Regions from separate parts of the Homo sapiens genome. Here region 1 is linked to region 2. The links come from fine-mapping of genetic effects on gene expression. A gene starts in region 2. The other region holds a variant in brackets. All regions are shown on one strand. Distances are between the middles of the regions.

The links. PIP is the estimated chance that this variant, and not a neighbour inherited with it, causes the effect. A credible set is the group of variants that fine-mapping cannot tell apart.
Region 1: its variant is the best candidate, but not a certain one, in a credible set for the expression of MTPN in skeletal muscle (GTEx, PIP 0.88).

The regions. Positions count from the first base shown.
Region 1 is chr7:135,805,532-135,810,914 of GRCh38, forward strand. No RefSeq gene overlaps it. Among named protein-coding and RNA genes, the nearest start is that of FAM180A, 59 kb to the left of the region's middle. The variant A/G (reference allele first, on the strand shown) is at 2,875.
Region 2 is chr7:135,974,711-135,980,093 of GRCh38, forward strand. MTPN (myotrophin) reads right to left here and starts at 2,649. Exons shown (of 4, transcript NM_145808.4): 1 at 2,319-2,649. The coding sequence starts at 2,390.

The DNA.
Region 1 (5,383 bases), 170 kb before region 2:
TGGGATTACTGGTGCCTGCCACCATGCCTGGCCAATTTTTTGTATTTTTGTAGAGATGGGGTTTCATGATGTTGGTCAGGCTGGTCTTGAACTCCTGACCTCAGGTGATGCACCCACTTCTGCCTCCCAAAGTGCTGGGATTACAGGTGTGAGCCACCTCGCCTACCCCCTCCAGCCCTTTTATAAGACACTAATCCACTCACGAGGGCAGAGCCCTCATGGCCTAATCACCTCCTCAAGGCCCCATCTCTTAACAGTGTTGCATGTTTGAATACGAATTATGGAGGGGACACAAACATTCAAACCATAGCAATGGCTGTCACAATTATCTAGAATTCCCGAGAGTCTCCTCCAGACGAAGTGATTTAGACTTGGGAAGTGAATTAAGGGGAGAAGGAAGATGATGGTAGACACCGAGGTCCCTTTTGGTGAACAGTTTGTTTTTCCCAAAGGCAAATAGAGATTCCAGTTTGGGAGTTTTGATGAAAGGCAATGGTCTGAGGAGAGATACAGGAATTCTGGGTCAAGGGTTCCAGGTGGGTAATGAAGGGGTACAATTCAGGGGCACCTATGTGGAGGTACTCATATTTTAGATGCTCTCCTTTTGGAGCCTGGGAAAGTCCTATTTACTTGGTGCTCAGCTTTATCCCTTTCCCTCATGTAGACGTTGAGTTCATTCTTTTAACTGACCCAGTTCTTGTGAGACGTAGCCCTGCGTGGCCTGGCATGGAGAAAGTGGGGAGATGGATGGTCAGAATGGAGGGTTATGAATGCAGCTCAGCATTCACAGGGAGTTGCAGTTTCTTTAATTTTTAGCTTTATGATTTTACTTCAGTGAAAATCTAAAACTGTTAATCTAAGATCTTCTGACTAGCCATTCTTTAACCAAAATTTGTCATAATATTTTTGTGCTTGCATTTGTACTTTTGTGCCCAAATCCCATTTGTACCAGGTAAAAGACAAGAAATCACAGTGGCTGCACGGATGAAGCTTTGGAGTTTCAGATAAGGAGATGAGGTAGAACTTTGTCATCTCGTAGCTTACTGTGGTGCCGGGATGCTGAACACCAAAGGATCTGCACCATTGCAGTTTCACGTACAAATAGATACACTGTGTGGCTCGACTGTACTTTGCAACTTGCAGTTCATTAAAAATAAATATAGGAGGCCAGGCGAGGTGGCTCATGCCTGTAATCCCAGCACTTTGGGAGGGCAAGGAGGGTGGATCATGAGGTCAGGAGTTCAAGATCAGCCTGGCCAACATGGTGAAACCCCGTCTCTACTAAAAATACAAAAATTAGCTGGGCATGGTGGCACATGCCTGTAATCCCAGCTACTCGAGAGGCTGAGGCAGGAGAATTGCTTAAACCGGGACCCGGGTGGTGGAGATTGCAGTGAGCCGAGATCACGCCATGGCACTCCAGCCTAGGCTACAGAGCGAGACTCCGTCTCTAAATAAATAAGTAAATAAGTAAATTTATAATGAATAGTTTTTCTTCTAATACAGGTAATGATGAGATTAAATTTAAAGCAGATGGAAGAGTGTCATAATGTTAATCTTATCTTCAACGGAATGAGACAGCTTCATGGTGTTATCAGAAGATCAATCACTGAAATAGGCATTTGAGGATTACATGTGGGGAAGTTTTGGTTAAGTATAAGTATGAGGTCTGATTATTCTGAACTAGCAGACAAAGCCTTGAAACCATGAATATAACTTTGAGCAGTTCTTTTATATGAACAGGCCCTCTCTGAATTAGTATTATAAAAGCCAAACTACAACACGAATTAAAGAAAGACCTGAGGCTTTTCCTACTATTAAATCCAAGACTAACAATTTTGTTGCAGCAAAACAGTATCATTAAATTAATGTTAATTTGAATATTGATTTTTTTCAGAAGGCTTTTTTTTTGAGTAAGTAATTTATAAATTTTATTTGGTATTTATTTGTAAATTAAAAAATTATTCCAGGTTTCATATTTATACACATTCGAGTAACATGACAATTTTTAAGTGAAACTGGAAGGTTCCTGAAAATTTTTTCTTTGAATACAGTATTCATTACTCTAATTTGAGAAAAACTGTGGCTGGGGAGAAAGGTCTTTGGGTTTCATACATATTATTGGCATCATAAATTTGTTTCATTTTCTTTTCCTGTTGGTTTTATACAAGATATACTTGGCTCCCTAATTACTTAGTAGGCTTCTTTTGTATACCCCCAGCACCTGGCACAATACTGGGCACATAATAGCTGTTGAAAAAATATGGCTAAAAGGGGGGTGGTCTGGGCACTGTCTGAGTGGATGAAATAGATTAAGATTGGAGTAAAATAGATTGGAAATGGATTAGAAAGAAATAGAGTAAAATGCAGCCCTCTGTTGCAAAATTCTCTAGCTAGGCTGTAAATTCTGATATATCAGGGCCTTTATGTCTCCCATGGTGCTTAAAATAGAGGAGATGCTTGGTCAATGCTGAGAAAGTAGGAAGGTTTTTTCTTCCCCAAAAGGAAGAATAAAACAAGCAGTGACCTGCACAGAGCCCTACACATGTGCTTCCGTTGAGATCCATGGCTGCTGTACACCTCAGCACACAGTGTGCCTCAGGCCTATACTCCTGAGTACCCACACTCGCACCCCTACTCACACACAGAGATACGCACGCTCTTTCTTTCTTTGCAGGGCAGTGTGATGGTCTAAAGTAGAACACTGCCTGTGATCAGGTAGGCCATTGGAAGGCTTGTCCCCAAATGGCCTCCGCTGCATCTGGAAATCTGACCTGACCAGCTCAAAGGGAGTAATCTAATCCTGGTCACATTTTCAGTGAGTTCTCAAGTATCAGCCGCTTTCCTGATGCAAACCCAGGGCTGAATTTCCCC[A/G]TGAACTAGCCCAGGCCGGCCAACTATTTCCAAACGAGAACACAGCTCCTGCCAGTGCAGACTTAACAAGAACTTAAGTTTCTGGGGCAACTCAGCCCTGCTGGAGATTCATTATCCCACTGTTAGTTAAGGGGCAAGCAAGCCTTGGCTGGCAAGCCTGCTAGGAGGCCAAGAAGTGGACTCTGTGGCATTTTATAATGATGGGTAAACAGCAGAAAGAAGACTCCAGCTTCTCCCCGCCCACTGGAACTCCAGAGCTTTGGGTCATGTCTGGTGGTAGGTCAAAGACCACCGTGGGTGGTGGGGCCCAGGAATCTAAGTTCTTAACAAGATCTCTAGATGATTCTGGCATACTAAAGTTGGAGGAATCCTGACTGTATTAAAGCTATCCATGCTGTTGGCCCTTCTTATATGGCCCAAGTTCAGAATTTCTCCCCTCCCTTGGTGAAGGACCCTGTGATGGCTCAGGGCCACCCAGCTAGGCCTGGGCATAGAGCCGTGGCCCATTAACCTCCTTCCACCGCCGAACCATTTCTTGTTTGCTGTTGCAGATTTTCAGGCCATGAAGAGGAGAGCTGCTCTGACATTTATGTCTCACTCTCCCGATTTAAAATGTCTTCATCACAACCAAAGACTCACCCTTTCCTCCCGGCCTCCTCTCTGTCTCTGCAGCCGATGGCTGCATTTCTCCCTCCTTTGTGCAGCAATCACATGCCTGTCGTGGAGAGAGAATAGAGCCAAAGTGGCTGCAATATCATATCTCTTGCCTGTGTTATAAACTGCAAGACTTGTCTGGATCACGGGAACTATTGTCGACATTAGCAGGCCAAGGGCACGGAGCCAAGGACGGCTCCCTTCTCCAGCATAGGCTCAGGAAAAGCACAGATTAGAAAAAGGCCCAGAAGAATTCTGTCCCTCCTTTCTTCTCGCTTGTGCATTTTAATCCTCCCCTTCCCCATCATGTCAGCGCATTCTGGACTTGAAATGAACCTAGAAAATGTGTATCATAAAATATTTGACTGACCAAGGGCACAGATTGCTATATCTTCCTATTTACTTATTTATTTTGAGACAGAGTCTCGCTCTGTCACCCAGGCTGGAGTGCAGTGGCACAATCTCAGCTCACTGCAACCTCTGCCTCCCCGGTTCAAGCAGTTCTCCAGCCTCAGCCTTCTGAGTAGCTGGGACTACAGGCACGTGCCACCACGCCCGGCTAATTTTTCTATTTTTAGTAGAGACGGGGTTTCACCATGTTGCCCAGGCTGGTCTCAAACTCCTGACCTCAAGCAATCTGCCGTCCTTGGTCTCCCAAAGTGCTGGGATTACAGGCGTGAGCCACTGCGCCCAGATGCTGTATCTTCCTATCCTTAGGCTGGTCTGGCATCCTTAATAGCAGAGCCCCTTTCTCTGTACTTTAAAGCTGGTGAAGGAATTTGGCATGATCATGTTCTTAACTGAGTGGTTAAGAAGGGCAAATACAGCCATTCTAGAAAAAAAAAAAAAAACAAACAAAACCCAACCTGATAATGAGGAAGACAGGAAGACAGATGAGGCTTTGCTCCTGAGGTCAAGACAGCTAGATGGTTTAGTAATTTTAACACAGAGAGAGCGTGCATTTCCCTTTTGTTTTCTAACTCGGTCTACCAACCAGGTAGATTTCAATGTGCATTCAACAAATTGAGCACCTACTGTGGCTCTGTGGCTCTGCTTAACCAGTGGTTTCTTTCTTTCTTTTTTTTTTTTTAATATGGAGTCTTGCTCTGGTGCCCAGGCTGGAGTGCGATCTTGGCTCACTGCAACCTCTGCCTCCCAGTTCAAGCAATTCTCCCTGCCTCAGCCTCCTGAGTAGCTGGAATTATAGGCATGTGCCACCACGCCCGGCTAATTTTTTTTTTTTTTTTTTTGAGATGGAGTTTTACTCTTGTTGCCTAGGCTGGAGTGCAGTGGCATGATCTCGGCTCACTGCAACCTCTGCCTCCTGGGTTCCAGTGATTCTCCTGCCTCAGCCTCCCAAGTATCTGGGATTACAGGTGCCCGCCACCATGCCTGGCTAATTTTTTGTATTTTTAATAGAGATGGGGTTTCACCATATTTACTAGGCTGCTCTCAAACTCCTAACCTCCGGTGATCTACCTGCCTCAGCCTTCCAAAATACTGGGATTACAGGCATGAGCCACTGCACCTGGCCAACCAGTGATTTCTAAAGCAGGCTTCTCATTGGAATCACTGGGGAAGCTTTTGAAAAATACAGTTTCCTACTCTGAGATTTTCAGTCAGTCAGTCTGGGATGAGGCCCTGGCATCTGTATCTTCATTTAATTTGAAAAGCACAACCCTATACTTTGGTCAGTGCTGTGGGGATACAAAATGGTTAGAACTCTCCTATCGTTTTAGAGCAGCGAACGGTCTGTTGGGGTTGGCAATATTAGACACCGTAGTGTTATGGTCCATTAAGTTACTAAGATGAATACAGAGCCTAAGTTGGAAAAAAGATAGAGTGGGATAGAGAG
Region 2 (5,383 bases):
TTTCTTTGTACACACCTACTCAGATAGATGCACATTACAGAAACTCAAAAAGTGAGTGTTCACAAATTGGTAGATGAAAAATGTGAGTCAATAAATAAGCAGGGAAGACAGCTGTGGGGCAGAAGAAACTGTAATAAGGACCTGAAAGTATAAATGGGCACCGTAAGGGAGCTGAGTCAGTATAAACTTCAGTTCTTGTTATTATTTCTCATTAACAAAGTGAAAGATACTTTATGAAATCTTCAAAACTAAGAAAGGATAAAGCTCAATGCTCTGTACATCAGATTACATTACAGTTACAGTCATATCTTTTTGGATAGTCCAACTTTCAATACTCCCTTTTGCTTTTTCTGAATGTCTACCCTCCCTCTTATGCAAATTTTTTACATTAATGAAGAACAGGCTACGGTAGTAATATAGGGAAAATAATCAAATTGAACATGATAACCTAACCTAATTATAAAACTAATTGGAAATAAATTAATCCATCTTTATTGGCATATATTTTCATATAAATATTTTTGTGTAGTTGAGAATTCTTTGGGCACAATTTACCTGCCTGAATGTGGACCCTGGGAATGTCCTACTAGAAATCTTGGTATGATACGCTTTCACAATTAGATCTTAGACTGAGAGATAGTGCGTGGAGCAGTTAAAGAGTTTCAGTTTTGGAGTCAGCAATTTAGTTCTTGCTTCACAATTTACCATCTCCATAACTTTTCTTAAGTATCCTGCATCTCAGTAATCTGTAAAATGGGACCAATAATAGGACTTACTTCCCAGTATTCACAAGGATGACATAAAATAATGTGTCAGGAAAACACTAAATACATTGTGTTATTTTGGTAGCTGTAAGTTCAGTTAGTACTTAATCAACTTTTTGTATTTCAAGTATATCAAACAACCTAGGTTCCACCATGACAGGAAAACAAAAGCCCACTTACTTCCAGAGTATTGCAGTGTCCCACCACTGGTAAGTGTACCAAATAATTTCTACCTTTTAGCTTTATATTGAAATAGCCAATAAGTCAAGTTTCAGTTGGCTACCAGCTGAGAAGGCAGTGACGAGAAGACAGCCTGTCCTAAAACTCCACTGCAAAAAACTAAGCAGGTAAGCAGCATCCAAAAAGTCTAAATTGTAATGGCATTAAATAAAGTAAAAACCTTCAGCAGTTTGCCTTGCACAATCCTGTAAGTTTTAAGAAACTGCTTCGCTTACTTGCTTCCTAACACAGCCTCTGAAGCAAAAACCCAGGTCAGGTCCTATTCTTTGAAGAGTTAAAATCTAGACTGGGTTCTCACACTTTTAGAAGGTGAGCAAGATGCCATCCGTGGTTGTCATAAAATTATACTTGTTTTGGAAGATTCATTTTAGATTATCACTAAATTAAAATCACATGTTAAGTTCTCTCATAATTACAAAGGCACAGTTTCAGGATGGAAAGACAGGCTAGCTTGGAATTTTAAGTTTCCCACTCTGCCACAATGTCGATTCAGTTTTATATTTGGGGCTGAGGTTTGAGTTTGTCTTTCTTCATCATGATTTTACCCCCCAAATACACTGCCACTAAACTGCATTGCTATTTACTACACATGTAAGCATTTCAGGTGAAATCAGGGAGAAGAATGGAATAACTGAAGTTAACATGCTTGTTTAAAAACTATTCAGATACCTTAAACATTCCCAGATGCCAGTTGACAACCTTACCACTTGAAGCAAATATGTATTTGTTGTGGTGGGGGAAAGGAAAAAGGCCACACCCAAAGTTAAGACACCACAGTGAAGTGATACTCAGTTTCAGAATTTTAACTATTTCTATTTTCGGTACTCTTTTCACGGTCAATGAATTCTTCAACTTCACACCAGGCCGAGAGTTAAAAAACATGTTCCTCTGATCCTAATTACTTAGGTTACTTCATTTAGTAATGGGTAAGTCCAAGATGGAGAATTACCTCATTCAAAGAAAGGTTTAAGTAACTTTGGTGTAGAAGAGGGCCAAACTCAAATGATCAGTGCGCAGAAGAAACTCTGGATGAGCCAGACACCACTCCTCCCCTCCCCCAAGAGGCCAGGAAGTCAGGTAGCGCCTAACTGTATTAACGCAGCAGTTACCTGACACAGAACGCTACCAAGTTACCTGGACCCTTCTTTCAGTTTAGCTCCTCCCTAGACGCCCCTCTCTCCTTGGTGCCGCCTCCACCCAGGAAGTCTCTCCTCCCGCCCACCCCCATCCCCGCAGTCCAGCTCCCATCAGCTTCCTCAGCCTCATCTCCAGCCCACCTCCGTGTTCTCGCCTACTCTTCTCATCCCCGCTTACCTTGGCCACATAGTCTTTCACCTCATCCAAGTCTCCGTTTTTCAGGGCCCACATGAACTCCTTGTCGCACATCACTGCAGCGGGGCAGGCCGGTTGGCCGGGCAGAAGATGAGGAGGCGGTGGCAGCAGCAAGCGGATGCCGCCGGGCGAGAGGGAGGCAGGGCCGCGCGAAGCCGGAGAGGAGAAGAAGAGAAGGAGGGTTAGGCTGCCAGGCGGGCGAGGCAGTTGGCCGCGGCGACCGTTCGGGCGGGAGAAAGAAAGTTCTTTTGCGGCCACCGGGCCCAGCAGAGAGGTTCCGCCTGGCCGAGGAGAGGCAGGAACCTTTACACTTCCGGTTCACTCCCCGCTAGGACCCTCCCCCAACTTCCTCTTCCTCTTCTCCTCCGCGGAACGCCTCTCTCTGGGTCCGCGGCGCGAACGCCACTAGTGCGCATGCGCAATGTACAGGCTGCCGGGAAGGCTAGAGTGGAGGGTAGGAGCCGGCGACAAGTGGGCGGGACTGGGAGGCAGAATGAAGGAGGCCCGGGGGAGGTCAAGACAGCGAATGGAGGAAGAGTGAGAGTACTTTCGATGGGATTAGGACGCTTCTGCACCACCATTAATGGGAAAAACTTTACTTTTTAAAAAACATAATCTTGGAGGGCATCTTGCTCAGCTTCTAAAAATGTATAGGAAGAGTGTTTAATTTGAATTCCTTCTTCCTTGCCTTTTCCCCTTCCCTCCCTCCTTTTCACCCCTCCCTCTCTCCGTCATCCAGTCTGACTGGGCTAAAAACGATGGAATAACGCTATTCCTGCCCTCCAGGAAATCTTCAACACTAAAACTACAATGTAAATTGAGTGTGTTAACACTATGTATAATGTTCCCTGGAGCAAAAAACTTAAGTGTGTGGCAGGAAAAAAAAAATTAACTCATCTTCCTGACCAGCAAATGACGTCCAGGCATTCAGTTTGATGCCGTAAAGTGGAGCAAACCAAACTGTCTAGTACAATTTGCGTTTTTTAAATTTACTGTTTGTTTTTAATGGTTTGAAACTTCAGGACTGTTCTGGTGAAGTCAGTTCTGTTCTTCCTAGGGTTTAGTTGTAATGCCATAGTGCATAGCTACCACTTGAATTGTTCCTCACAACCCTAATGATCCAGGCATGCGCACATGAACATAGATCCAATAAAAGCTCTTATTGGAGCTAGAAATATACGTATAATATATATACATATATAACTATTACTATATATAAAACTCATATATATAATCTATTATTTGTAACCCACTAAACACATTAACTAAGCTACTTTACCACCATTGCCGTACAGTGTAGGGGTTCCAAACAGACTCTGGAGCCAAATTGTTTAGTTTGCGATACAGGTCCCACTTCTTGCTAATTTTGTGTCTTCTTGGGCAAGTTACTGAACCCCCTTCTGCTTCAGTTTTCCACTTGTGTAAAATGGGGATGTCAATAGTGTTTGGAAATGTATTTTTTTTTTTTTTGCTATCATTTAGAGTAGAATAGCAAATGGGTTTCAAATCAGAAGAAATCCCTCCAAATATTAACATCTACCTAGATTGTCATTTGTTAATTTTACTCCCTGATAATTAGAAATACAAATCCACATACCCAATAGTGATACGATTTCTGGAAACAAATCTCAAGGGGGAATTTGTTAGGCAAGTCCTAGAATCTCCATCTCTTCTCCAACACACTCCCACCTGTGTGATTTCTGAGTTACATCATGCTGAGAGCTCTTGATTTATATCTTTGGCCGGGTGCAGTGGCTCATGCCTGTAATCCTAGCACCTTGGGAGGACAAGGCTGGAAGATCGCTTGAAGCCAGGAGTTGGAGACCAGCCAGGGCAACAAAATGAGACACCATCTCTACAAAACACAAAGATTAAAAAAATTAGTTGGGTACAGTGGCGGACTTCTGCCTTCCCAGCTACTTGGGAAGCTGAGGCAGGAGGATTACTTGAGCCCTGGAGTTTGAGGCCACAGTAAGCTATGATGGCACCACTGCATTCCAGCCTGGGTGACAGAGCAAGATCATCTAAAAAAAAAATCTTTAACTAGACTTTTCCTATGTGATCTATTCTTATATTTAACTTCTTACTCATTTGGATTTCTCAAACTTAACATGTCCAGAATAGGATCTGGTCTCCTGTAGATGTTAAACCTAGTTGTCCCCCACATATCTCTGTAAATGGCGCTGCCAACCACCCTATCACTAAAACCAGAAACATGGGAGTCATAATCACTCTTCCCATTCTCAACTTTTCTCTTATTCAATCCATCAGTAAATATTTCAAAATATGTCTTAAATTTGTTCATTTCTTGCCATCTTCACTATTACTACTCCCTGCACCCTCACATATCCCCCATCCCTGTCACTGTCATCTCTGTCTACACTGCTATGATGCTATGTGCTATGATAGCCTCCCTGTTGGTGTCCTATTTTCACTCATCCTTTTCTAGATAATTCCCCACTTTGGGAGTTACTCTTTTAAAACTTAAACATGCACTTGTTGTCCTAAGGCCTTTCAAAGGCTTCCTATTGCAGGTAGGTTAAAATCCTAACTACTTGATATGGCCTTCAGGGCCTTCTGTGCACTGACTGCTGATGGTAGGTGATAGTATCTCCTATCTCATGACAGTCCCTTGCCACCCCCATTGTTTCTTTGATTTTGAAATATCTTGTCTTCTGTCAGTTTCAAGCTAAACCAAGCTCATTCCACCCTAAGGCCTTTATGCTTCTTGTTTCTTCTCTGGAATGTTCTTCATCTAAGTCTTGTTCACTCCATCTGACTTTTGAGGTTTCAATGCAAACCTTCAGAGAGACCTCCCAGACCACCCACTTTAAATAGGTCCTTCAATTACTTACAGGGCCCAGCTTTTCCCCCATTTACAGCACATGTCACAAGTATTTTAATTATCTTTTTTGTTTACCTATTTTGGTAAGTATTCATGGTGTTAAACAAATAATTCCTTTGTCTGCCATTCTGGGCACAAGAGAGAACTGCTCTTCCTGGCTTGTAGTTGAATAATATCATGTAACTAATTTTGGCCTATTAGT